Linked DNA regions of Homo sapiens. The protein of the gene in region 2 purifies or fractionates together with the protein of the main gene of each other region. This does not show direct contact. Each region holds a gene or a part of one and is shown on either strand. Other genes may lie near its edges.

Region 1 (3,500 bases), on a different chromosome or scaffold from region 2:
GAAAAGTGATTTTCCCCTCTTCCATCCCAATGTTCACCTTCTACAAAAATCACAGAGCATACAAGCCAGAACTGTATGAAGCCTCTCATTTCACCTGGCATAAACAGAAAGAAAATCAATGGGAAAGAAAAGTCAAAGGATAACTTAATAAACATAAAATGAAGTCTCACAATTCAATACTTGAGAGTCTGGACCTATCTTCTGAAATATGCCATCAACTATCTTTGCTTCTCCTGCTTCTGGCCTAAGGTGACTGTTAATTAAGTGTTTACATTGCTCCAAAATGCCAACGAGGTGTAGTTTATAATAAGAGTACACAGAAATGTGCCCAGCAAAGTAAGAAGCACTGTACTCACAAATGGTTCAAATACTTGACACCTTAAAGATCATGGATCATACAGCTAGAAAAGAACTCTTAAAGAACATCTGGTCTGAACAAAAAGGATTCATGTTTCTAGTATTCACTCAACCATGGGGGAAGGAGGAGATGACAAAAAATATAATTGAAACAACTTCCTTTTTTTTGAGATAGGATCTTGCTCCATTACCCGGGTTGGAGTGCAGTGGCTCACTGGATCATGGCTCACTGCAATATCAAACTTCTGGGTTCAAGTGGTCCTCTCACCTCAGCCTCCCGAGTAACTGGGACTACAGGCATGCACCACCACGCCTCGCTAATTTCTTATTTTTGTAGAGATAAGGGTCTCACCATGTTGCCCAGGATGGTTTTCAACTCCTGGGATCAAGCAATCTCTTGCTTCAGCCTCCCAACGTGCTGGGATTACCGATGAGCTACCATGCCCAGCCTAGTTTAATGATTTCTATACTTCTAGCATAGTACCAGGCAATTAAGACATGGTCAAGAGTTACAAAATTTGGGGGAAGAGAGGTGACAAAGTAAATCATGTATTATATATTGCCTTAGTTTGTTAAAGTAATACCTATACTAACAAAGATTTTTTCAGGGGCCCACTTCATCAGATGCTTCATTACCAAACCAAACAAAGGATGTATAAAATACATTCTAAAGATAAAAGGTTAGCTGCTGATCAAGCAATGGCGACAGCTGTGGTATTAAGATAAAAGGAATGCTGGAATCACCATTGCAAGACACTGCCTCAATTTACTGATCTGCAAAATGAAGAGCATTTTCAGATACTTTTAGTCTCAGATTAAAGTAAGAAAACAGGGAGGATGCAGGAGGCAAATTCAGACACCTGGAAATGTTGCTTATGGCTCAAACTACCTTCCTTCGATGAGAGAGGGAGTACAAATGAAAGGTGAGTAAAAGGGGAAAATCAAACCCTCCACTTCATAAATATTTGTCAACTATTGTGCACATGCGTGTTTTCTTTTTTAAAAGATACTTTTTATTATAAAGGAGTTTTGTTCTTAAAAGTTTACTAGTTGAAGTATAAGGGTTTTTAAAAACTGGTATCAAGTCAGTGCTTCAGACACAGCCACACCACGAGCAGGGAGGGAGGTATGACATGACACAGTTGTTGAACATACTGCTCTGTACTGTGTCTCAGTTCAATCTTGGCTCAAGACTTAAGCCAACTATAGGATCACAGTTATTTCTTCCCTCACCTATAAGATGTGGCTATCAATATGTTTTGTAGAGTATAGATAGGATTAAATGAGTTAATATATGTGATGTGCTTTAAGTGTTGTCTGGCACATTGCAAATGCCCAATATCGGTTGTTGTTGTTATTATTACTATTATTTTGAGACGGAGTCTTGCTCTGTCACCAGGCTGGAGTGCAGTGGTGCAATCTCAGCTCACTGCAACCTCTGCCTCCCTGTTTCAAGCGATTCTCCTGCCTCAGCCTCCAGAGTAGCTGGGACTACAGGCACATGCTGCCACACCCAGTTAATTTTTGTATTTTTAGTAGAGACGAGGTTTCACCATGTTGGCCAGGATGGTTTCAATCTCTTGACCTCATGATCTGACTGCCTCGGCCTCCCAAAGTGCTGGGATTACTGGCATGAGCCACCGCGCCCCACCAATATTGGTTATTATTAAAGATCTTTTTAAGTTCTAATACCATGTTAAAATTCTACATGGAGGGCAAGACCTAGTGACTCACGCATGTAATCCCAGTGCTTTGGGAGGCCCAAGTGGGAGGATCACCAGAGGCCAAAAGTTTGAGACCAGCCTGAGCAATACAGTGAGACCCCATCTCTACAAAAAAATTTTAAACTTAGCTAGGTGGGGTGGCACGCCTGTAGTCCCAGCTACCTGGGAGGCTGAGACGGGAAGATCACTTGAGCCCTGGAATTTGAGACTGCAGTGAGCCATGATCACACCAGTGCACTCCAGCCTGGGAAACAGAGGAAGACCCTGTCTCTAAAAAATAAAAAAATTCTACATGGAATAATAACAGGCACTGAAGTACTGCTAAGGAAGACATTAACTGGTCATCAAAATCATGATATTTTAAATAAGCATTGCTTTTTTTTTTTTTTTTTAAAGACAGTCTACCTCTGTTACCCAGGCTGGAGTGTAGTGGTGCAATCTCGACTCACTGCAACCTCTGCCTCCCAGGTTCAAGCAATTCTCCTGCCTCAGCCTCCGGAGTAAGTAGCTGGGATTACAGCAGTGCGCCACCATGCCCAGTGTATTTTTGTATTTTTAACAGAGACAAAAATAGGTTTTATTACCTTGGCCAGGCTGGTCTTGAACTCCTGACCTCAGGTGATCCATTCGCCTAGGCCTCCCAAAGTGCTGTGATTACAGGTGTGAGCCATCACACCCGGCAATAAGCACTGCTTTTTATCCGTCAATCTTATTTCCAGGAACCTCTCAAGGATGTGTGCAAATACGTATGTATAAGGATGTTCATCAAACTTCTCATTTATAAAATAGCAACAAGTGGAAAACTACCTAAATATCAATGAACAGGATATTGGTTAAATAAGTGATGTCATACCTTTACAACTGGAGTACTATGGCAGTCAATCTATTTATTTTTTATTATTTTTTTTTTTTTGAGATGGAGGCTCGCTCTGTTGCCCAGGCTGGAGTGCAGTGGCACAATCTCGGCTCACTGCAAGCTCCGCCTCCCGGGTTCATACCATTCTTCCTCAGCCTCCCAGAGTAGCTGGGACTACAGGTGCCCGCCACCACACCCGGCTAATTTTTTGTATTTTTAGTAGAGACAGGGTTTCACCGTGTTAGCCAGGATGGTCTTGATCTCCTGACCTCGTGATCCACCCGCCTCGGCCTCCCAAAGTGCTGGGATTACAGGCGTGAGCCATTGCGCCCGGCCTATGGCAGCCAATTTAAAAGCGTAATGTGTACCTACAGTTAATGACATTTCTGAGTGGAAAAAAAAATCAAAGTACAAAATAACACGCGTTGATCCCACTGATATTAAATTTTATAGTTCATATTTTTGAGTCAATATGCAGAGATCTTAGAAAATGTTCACCAAAAACTGTTATCCAAAGATGGAGATGAAGATTTTAGGGAATGCCTTCTTTAAACCTTTGAGTA
Region 2 (3,500 bases):
CGGTTGTCACAAAGCATATGGAATATGAGCTTGCTGTGTTCCATGCAAGATTCTAAGATATCAGATAGGTTGCTGGTAAGGGAGTAGGTCACTAAGATCAAATTATACCAGCCTAACTGCATTTTCTGTTCCGGATATTGACCAGACTGGAAAGGCAGATTAAATGTCTCTGAAATAAAGACATACAGGTATGCATCTGGGGTAATGGGCTTTTTAATCTTGGAGGGGAGAGTCTGGACAGCATGCCATGGCATTCACCACAAGGAGTAAATCTGACCTGTCAAGAAGCATGGCTGTGGTCAATTAAAATTCAGAAGAGTGGAAGGGGACACATTGATGCACAAGGTAAACTGAAGATTTTGCTTTGGGAATTAACTGTTATCTTTTCCATTCTCCATAGCATTATGCAGTTGCTCGGCGCATTTCCTTCACCTAGTGGTCCTGCCTCTCCTTGTAGTCTTGTGAATGAGACCACTTTGATTAAATACTCCAGGCTGCCAACCATAAACAAGCATAGTTTCCGGTACTTTGTCTTGGATAACAGTGTCATCCTGGCAATGCTGGAACAACCTCTTGGAAATGAGCAGAGTAAGTTTATAGTACTTTGAGCCTTCTCTACTGCTTAATCAGTGTTACCAGTACCATGAAGCTGTTTCCAGGATCAGGGAAGGACAGCCTACAGATTCTAAGTAGGTCAGAAAGATTTCTAGCTGTGGGACAATAGCACCTGAAAAATAGGGGGGCAAAAAAATAGAATATACATATTACATAGAGTCTTTTAAAGGCTCTTGATGTGCATCTGAACTAGCTCTGTAGTTTTATAAAAGGTGGTGTTTTAGTGGGTTCCATTGTGTTGTTTATCTTTGTCACTTTTTCTTCCCCCTTGAACTTCGGATCCTGCCCCTCTGCTCCCCTCCCTCTCACTCCTCATGTTCTGTATCAATTGTTGGTGCTACCTACACAGGCTAGAAACTTGAGGAGTTATCTTTACCTGCCCCTTCCTGTTACTCACTTATATAATTAGTTTCTAAGTTTCCATCTTCCCAGGGACCCTTGAATTTTTCCTTTCCTCTGTATTTTCCCAATACATCCAAGTGCAGGTCCTTATTATTTCTCACCTAGATTATTACAGCTGTTTCCTACCTACTCTGATTCCCTCAACCCCTAAACCCCTTGCCAGTTCTAACATGTGTTTTCCCTACTTTCATCCTACTTGCTGCCACCATAGTATTCATCTTCAACCACAAATGACCATGCCAGTGCCCTACTGAAAATCCTTCAGTGATTTTCCATTAACACAACATGCACTGTTTTCCTCCTTTCCCTCCCCCTCAGTTATAAGCCATCTCACAATATGTGATTATCACTGCGACCCAAACTATCCACAAGTACATTTTTTTTTTCTGATGGTAATTGGCATCAGCCAGTATGTAAAAGAAGCATGTTCTCAGACCCTTATTGCTGGGAAGGGGAAGGAAAGTGAAGGTTACAGAATCTGTGGGTATAAAGTGACCCATGGAGTCACCTGGTATACAATTCCCTTAGTTATGAGTGAAAAAACTCAGGCTCACAGAGGGTATATGACTTGCCCAGGGTTACTTGGGACTAGAGCCCAGATTTTCTAAACCCTGTATTGTCCCTTTCTATTATTATTGTCGCACAGTGATAGGATTTGCTCAGTGATTAAAGATTTGCCTTCTTGCCTTTGTAAAGGTGAAGAGTTCTGTGCCAGTTTTGTTGATTATATGAGTAAGAGCTCATAAATCCATGAAGTGAAAGTGAGACATTTCCCTGCAGTTTGAGATGAAAAGAATACCATCATAAACTTCTGTTGTGTTGTGGTGAGATGCGGTGACATTAATGTGAAATGGAATGGTGCCTTTTATTATTGTCTAACTTCAGAACTGCTACTCCCAAGTCTTTTCTACAGGCATCTCATCCTTCTCTACCCTAGACATGGAGCTTGCTTGGCTTTCTTTCCTAGCCTGTGCCTGTTCATGATTCCTCCAGCCTCCTACTCCAAGCCATCTGCTGAGGAGTCTGCAAAATCCCAGTGTCCCCTTCAGGCTTCCTGGCCTTTTTCCAGCTTTTTAAAGACTCTCCTACTTTCATTCCAAATAATTTCATTGCATAGGAAGTGTACCAAAAATACAAGCAATTGGAATTGTATAGATTTACAAGGACATTTTAATAGTTTATTGTAATAATAAGAAATTATAGAGAAGTTTGAAGGCGTTTGACTCCCATATCTGAGACGGAAGAATAAAAAAAAGGATCTGGGTCACTCGGGAAGTCCATCCTGAGTGTTTTTTTTAACACCCCCATCATGTCCCTGAACTTCTGCTGAGATGGAACAGTGCCTGCCTGTGGTGGGCAGTGGTACACAAAGGCATGGGCAGATATAACACTAACACTGCAAACACCCAGTCTGTCTTTCTACACTTAAGTTGTTCCCAACATTGGGAGGTTAAGAGTATTTACTAGGACAGTGTTTCCCACAAATGTGTACATGTACCATTGGAGGTATGTGAGATGATCTTAGTTGATACATTAGTGAACATTATTTTATGTATTTTTAAGCATGTGCTTTAAAATTATATAATTAGTACATGCCAAAATTCATGATTTTCCATTTAGAGATGCACAAGAGTGGTTGATACAAAGTAATAGTACTTACAGTACACGGGTATGGGTACGGCAGAAACCACAGAAGTGGTACACAAAAGATCAAAGCTTAGGAAACACTGTTGGGCCTTTGATTATGAGAAGCTCTGCAGTTGATAACAAGTTTATTTTAAATGGTTGTTGTCTGAAATTAAAACTTTTATATACATATTTTATTCTAGATGATTTTTTCCCCTCTGTCACTGTGCTGGTCCGGGGAATGTCTGGAAGACTTGCTTGGGCACAACAGCTTTGTCTTTTACCCAGAGGAGCAAAAGCAAATCAGAAGGTATTCATCAGAAGTTACAGGGAAGTGTGTGTGTGTTTTGTAATTTAAAGGTTAGGTAACATTCCAACAGAAGACACAGATCAAATAAATATTTTTGATCCCTAGCCAGATTCTCAGTCAGTGGGTTCATATCAGAATCATCTAGGAACCTAGAATTCCAGATGTACTCAATTACTCTTTAAAGACATGTTCAAGGCAGGTGTCTTTTCAAAAAGCTTTCCAGGTGATTCTGACATCTACTTAGGAGTAATTGCTGTTGTGGACAATGGCCCCAGTTTTTTCCATGTAATTTTACAAATGTAATAAAAGTCAGATATATACCATACGTGAAAAAAATTTGGTGGGACTTTTGATTTGTCCGCAACAGGACTTAGTTTGAAATTGTTTTATATGATTTGTTCTTATATAATAATTGGTAATATATTGTATAAATTTTATTTTTTTTATAAAGAGTCAGGGTCTTGTTCTGTTGCCCAGACTGGAGTGCAGTGGTGTAATCATAGCTCACTGCAGCCTCAAGCTCCTGGGCTCCAGTGATCCTCTTGCC

What was found.
Region 1: the proteins of RALGAPB (region 2) and DHX15 purify together in Homo sapiens (tandem affinity purification; one study listed by IntAct). This does not show direct contact.

What each region holds. Positions count from the first base shown.
Region 1 is NC_000004.12:24,578,055-24,581,554, forward strand, and holds part of DHX15 (ATP-dependent RNA helicase DHX15), read right to left. Parts: intron 1-3,500.
Region 2 is NC_000020.11:38,545,843-38,549,342, forward strand, and holds part of RALGAPB (ral GTPase-activating protein subunit beta), read left to right. Parts: intron 1-400; coding exon 401-588; intron 589-2,846; coding exon 2,847-2,953; intron 2,954-3,500. UniProt on the Homo sapiens protein: Non-catalytic subunit of the heterodimeric RalGAP1 and RalGAP2 complexes which act as GTPase activators for the Ras-like small GTPases RALA and RALB.